2 separate regions of the Homo sapiens genome follow, and region 1 is linked to region 2. Evidence: fine-mapped expression QTL. A gene starts in region 2. The other region holds a variant in brackets. All regions are shown on one strand. Distances are from middle to middle.

What was found. PIP is the estimated chance that this variant, and not a neighbour inherited with it, causes the effect.
Region 1: its variant is fine-mapped to the expression of TM4SF20 in fibroblasts (GTEx, PIP above 0.99).

The regions. Positions count from the first base shown.
Region 1 is chr2:227,420,372-227,423,294 of GRCh38, reverse strand. No RefSeq gene overlaps it. Among named protein-coding and RNA genes, the nearest start is that of SCYGR1, 34 kb to the right of the region's middle. The variant G/A (reference allele first, on the strand shown) is at 1,182.
Region 2 is chr2:227,378,028-227,380,950 of GRCh38, reverse strand. TM4SF20 (transmembrane 4 L six family member 20) reads left to right here and starts at 1,645. Exons shown (of 4, transcript NM_024795.4): 1 at 1,645-1,865. The coding sequence starts at 1,683.

The sequences.
Region 1 (2,923 bases), 42 kb before region 2:
CATCTACAATTTCTGGTTTCATTTTCTTTAAAGTGGAGCATGAACGTAAGGAGATGTGTAAAGCAAAATTTCAAAAATTGTTCTTATCCTTTACAGTTAGGTCGTGCCCATGCCTAATTTAACAGCATTGTTTAAAAGCAATCCATTATTATCAAATCTTCTGAGGCATGTAATTTAGTTTTTTAAAAACAAACATCTCATTTTGCAGTAATTTTAGATTTACAGATAAATTGCAAAGATAGTACAGAGAGTCCCTGAATACCCGTCACCTAATCCTCCCAATTATTAACACCTACGTTACTCTGGTACATTCGTCAAAACTAAGAAACCAACAATGGCACATTATCATTAACTAAACTCTAGACTTCATTAGTATTTTACCACCGTTTTTTTTTTCTTTTGTTTTTTCTCTTTTTCTGAGATGGAATCTCACTCTGTTGCCAGGCTGGAGTGCAGTGGTGTGATCTTGGCTCACTGCAACTTCCGCCTCCCTGGTTCAAGCGATTCTTCTGCCTCAGCCTCCCGAGTAGCTGGGATTACAGGTGCCCACCACCATGCTCAGCTAATTTTTGTATTTTTAGTAGAGATAGGGTTTCATCATGTTGACCAGGCTGGTCTCACACTCCTGACCTCAGGTGATCTGCCTGCCTCGGCCTCCCAAAGTGCTGGGACCACAGGCATGAGCCACCGTGCCCAGCCTTTGCCACCTTTGTCATTGTTATCTGTCTGCCTCAGGATCCAATCCAAGGTTTCTCCTCACATGTAGTTGTCATATCTGCCCAGTCTCTTCTGGTCTGTGACAGTTTCTCAGTCTTTCCTTGTTTTTCATGACCTTGATAGTCTTGAGACATCCTGGCCAGGTATCCTATAGACTGTCTCCCAATATAGGTTTATCTGAAATTTTTTCCAGATTAGACTGGAGTTATGGGCTTGGGGACAGAATACAAGATAGGTGAAGTGCCCTTCTCAGCCACCTGGTATCTACTTGCATTACTGTTGATAGGAACCTTCCTATAATTAAGTTTTTATAAAAAATAATGCTCATCCTTTTATCACTCACATTTTATTGGTTTACATACTATTTCATTGAATAATGCAATCAGAAATATAAATAAAAATGTCATACACAGGACTGGGGACAAACACAACTGACTCTTGGTTAGTGTGAGTCTCACCTTGGC[G/A]AGGGGCTCCAACATAGGAGCATCCATCGCTGGGTTTTATGATGGAATGGGAAGCACTGGCTACTTCAATACTATAAGTTCATTAAGAAGCAAAATGAGGCTGGGTGCGGTGGGTCACGCCTGTAATCCCAGCACTTTGGGAGGCTGAGGCGGGCAGATCACCTGAGGTCAGGAGTTTGAGACCAGCCTGGCCAACATGGTGAAACCTCATCTCTACTAAAAACACAAAAATTGGCTAGACGTGGTGGTGGGCGCTTGTAATCCCAGCTACTTGGGAGGCTGAAGCAGGAGAATCACTTGAAGCCAGGAGGAGGAGGTTGCAGTGAGCCAAGATCTCACCATTGCACTCCAGCCTGGTCAACAAGATTAAAACTCCATCTAAAACAAAACAAAACAAAACGCCAAATGAGCATTAACCATTTATATTACAGATTGAGAGTTAGTTTGTTTATTTATTTATTTATTTATTTATTTATTTATTTATTTATTTATTTTTGAGATGGAGTCTCGCTCTGTCTACCAGGCTGGAGTACAATGGCACTACCGCCACCAAACCCGGCTAATTTTTGTATTTTTAGTAGAGACGGGGGTTTGCCATGTTGGCCAGGCTGGTCTCGAACTCCTGACCTCAGGTGATCTGCCCGCCTTGGCCTCCCAAAGTGCTGGGATTACAGGTGTAAGCCACCGCGCCCAGCCCAGATTGAGAATTTAAATCTCTCCCTCTGGTAAGTGGAGGTGTGTGGAGAGATTCTATTCTATTGGTTATTGTCTTTCCCTCCTCCCTGTGACCTGGCACTCAGTACAGTGCTTGGCACACAGTGGGAACTCATTACGTATTTCCTGAATGAATAAACAGAGGAAACTTTAGGTATGTGTCAATCACGGTCCAATAAGGAGATAGAAAATGCAACAGTTGGCCCGTCGCTGTGGCTCATCCTTGTAATCCCAGCACTTTGGGAGGCGGAGGAGGGCAGATGAGTTGTGGTCAGGAGTTGGAGACCAGTCTGGCCAACATGGTGAAAACCCGTCTCTACTAAAAATAAATATATGCAAAAATTAGCCAGACATGGTGGGCGCCTGTAGTCCCAGCTACTCGGGAGGGTGAGACAGGAGAATAGCTTGAACCTGGAAGGTGGAGGTTGCAGTGAGCCAAGATAGCACCACTGCACTCCAGTCTGGGTGACAGAGAGACTCCGTCTCAAAAAAAAAAAAAAAGCATGAGTTGTTTGAATAGAGAGGATTTAATTGTTAACTAAGCATAAATTTGCTGATAACATAAAATGCGCTAGGTAACATAAATGGCAAAAAGATAACGCAAAACTACCCTGGAGGTAGAAACTAGAGGAAGCAGTGGGAATTGGGGAGCGAAAGGAAGAGGCTCAAACTATTAAAGCTTAGATGTTTGGAGGAAGAGCCGTGTGGAGCTGAGCACCAGATTCTTAAGGAGGGCTACTGTACGTTCCAGCTGAGGTCTGCGAGGGGCTGTGAGGGGACCAGTTCTACAAGCATTGAAAATATTGCAGACTGGCTTCAGTGGTGGACTCGGGAAGGAACTGGTGCTACTGCTGAGCATGAAATGGTTAATGCTCATTTCACTTCTTAATGAAGCATTGCCTGGGTGCCATTCACAGGAGCAGAAAGTGGTCAGGAAAGAAGAGGGGCTTCCTCCTCCTCCGGCTGTGCGGTCTCTCTCTTGCATCTCCCCATGGGAAGATGGGAAGAGCTTCAGAGGGAGCCAGCTC
Region 2 (2,923 bases):
TACAAAGGATTTCACATTTCACTGAGGTCCAGTAACTGGACCCCCTAGTCTGGAGCTACTGTTTTGGTGTCCATTACCAGGGATGCCCCTTGTACCAGGCTGTGTGCGCCCCCCACACTGCTGCAGGGTGGAGCGCTGCTCTCTAAGCCTACTACGCCTGAGCTTTTGGCCCACACTGACTGCACCGCTGCATACATTATTTCACCATTCCCAACAGCACTCACTGAATCTATGCTCTGGGCTGAGCGGGGGATTACACAGAAGCAGAAGGAAGGCGCTGTAGAGATTAGAGCTGCCTAATGTCCCAATCTTTTCTCCTAGACATATTGGTTTGTATTTCCACCCACTTGAACTCATGCATAACTGAGTGACTTTTTTGGCCAATGAAATGTGAACAGAAGTGATGTGGGTCGCTTCTGGGCAGAAACATATAGATCCAGTATGTGGCTCACCACATTTTTGTACCCTGCCTCTGTGACTGTGGAAGCCTGGATCAAGAAGCTGCCTCTGCCAGTCTAGGTCTAGGTCTAAGTCTAGGTCTTTCAGTAACTACCATGACCCCATTTAGATCAGGATGGTCAGTCAGCATAAGCAAGAACTTTTGTATTGTTTTTGTTTTTTGAGATGGAGTCTCCCTCTGTCGCCCAGGCTGGGGTGCAGTGGTGCAATCTCAGCTCATGGCAACCTCCACCCCCCAGGTTCAAGTGATTCTCTGGCCTCAGCCTCCCAAGTAGCTGGGATCACAGGTATGTGCCACCACGCTTGGCTACTTTTTGTTTTTTTGGTACAGATGAGGGTTTTGCCATGTTGGCCAGACTGATCTCGAACTCCTGACCTCAGGTGATCCTCTCGCTTTGGCCTCCCAAAGCACTGAGATTACAGGCGTGAGCCACCGCAGCTGGCCAGAACTTTTGTATTTTAAAGCTTATGCCAACTGATAGTCTTTTCTCAAGGAGCTCACCAGCTAGTGGAGAGGCAATGTGGAACCACAGTCTAGAGATGTAAAGTACTGCACATGGCCAAGTAAGTGTTCAAGGGCTTAAATAAAATATGATAATCTCCTCATCCAATCTCTCTCCTATTGCTATCTTTCAGTCTGGTAGCATTAGCCAAAGCTCTCACATGTCTTAGGTGGGCTATCTCTAAATGGGTTAGTCTGCAACACTGGAATAATATGACATAAACATTTTCTTTTGTGTATGTGAGCATACGGCTTGAAATAAACTCTAATATTTGCAGCAGAGGAAATACCTTTCTCCACATCTCATACGTGTTCATTTTCTTGTTGAACAATTTCAAAATAAGAAACTTCCATAGCTGGTAATAATATCGATAGAACAGGAAAATATAGTTTAGCTGGATATTTTTGTTTTTACTTTTTAGAAGCCATACTAATAAAGGAGTATATTAAAGGAGCTTATCGTAAGCCTATCTTCTTACATAAATTTATCTCATAGATTTTTTTTTCTGCTTTCCTTCCTTCACCTCATCATAATATGGAATTATTTTCTCATTTCCCATCATAGTCATCATAATAATGTCCTACCCTATTGGACTCTGAACTATTTTCCACTATTCATTTTTTATTAGCGTTAAATTTTAACCAGAAGATTGGGATAAAAGGCAACATAGTACCATGCAAGCATAGCCACTTTGACAACGTTTCTGAGCCAGGGGTGACCATGACCTGCTGCGAAGGATGGACATCCTGCAATGGATTCAGCCTGCTGGTTCTACTGCTGTTAGGAGTAGTTCTCAATGCGATACCTCTAATTGTCAGCTTAGTTGAGGAAGACCAATTTTCTCAAAACCCCATCTCTTGCTTTGAGTGGTGGTTCCCAGGAATTATAGGAGCAGGTCTGATGGTGAGTGATATTTATTTGACTTGATGTGAAGAAGGGCCTGCCTATTTCACCAAAATCCTAAAAGCTGTCTTCCAGTCTTGCAGTTAACTATGTCTTGGCTTATGATAAAATTTGGAGCAGTAGTATGGCATTAATTTATATTGGTCATCAGTGAAGAATGGTAATTTAAATAAAGTACACTATGTGGTATAGGATAGAGAGCTGGGCAAAAAAATAAATTAATTAGTAGAAGTTGGCTGGGTTATTATCTCTCACATTTCTGTACAGGTAGGGCTGCTCTTTCAAGCTTTGTGGTTAGAGTTAGGGACCTTCTGAATTAATTCCTTCAACTTTCCATTGCTCCATACCAGTCTCTAAGTATTTACAGAAAATGCAATAGGAGTGACAGGTTGCTTAATAGGGATGAGTAGAAACATTCCCATGTATGATGACTAGCCTGGGTGATGGTAATTACGAGGCATGAATGCTGCATTGCCTGTACCTGAAGGGAGTTGGGCTAAGAGACATGGACTTAAAATCCTGGGTCTCTGGCCTCAAGGAATTTTTGACTCAGCTATTATATAGATCCTAGGACATCGAGCTTGTTGAATAGTTTGGTGATTGTTACTAGGTCTACCTCTGTTGAAATCTGCAGCAGAGCAGTGCAGGATGGAACTCCTAAATATAACTGACATGAATCACCCGAGGCACTTGCAATAGTTAGATTTACGGATTTTCTCCTGAGAATTCTGGGTGCAGTAGGCCTGGGTAGGACGCATTTGTATAGGGAAAACGGCTTTCAAATATGGCAGAATACCTCAGCTATGGTTCTGCCTCCCATATACCACTGCAAGCAAATCATTTATCCTATGGTTTTGTTTCCATATGTGTAAAATGGGGATGTGGATGTTGAAGTTGATAATTCAGCATCCAAGAGGCTTGTTTTTGTTTGTTATGCCACTAGGGGGTTTAGTTAGTGCCAAATAAATGAATGTGTGTGTGTGCCTGTGTGTGTGTGTGTGTAAGACAGAGAGAGAGAGAGAGAGTAAGCTGTAAGGACTGATATTATCAGTGTTTTA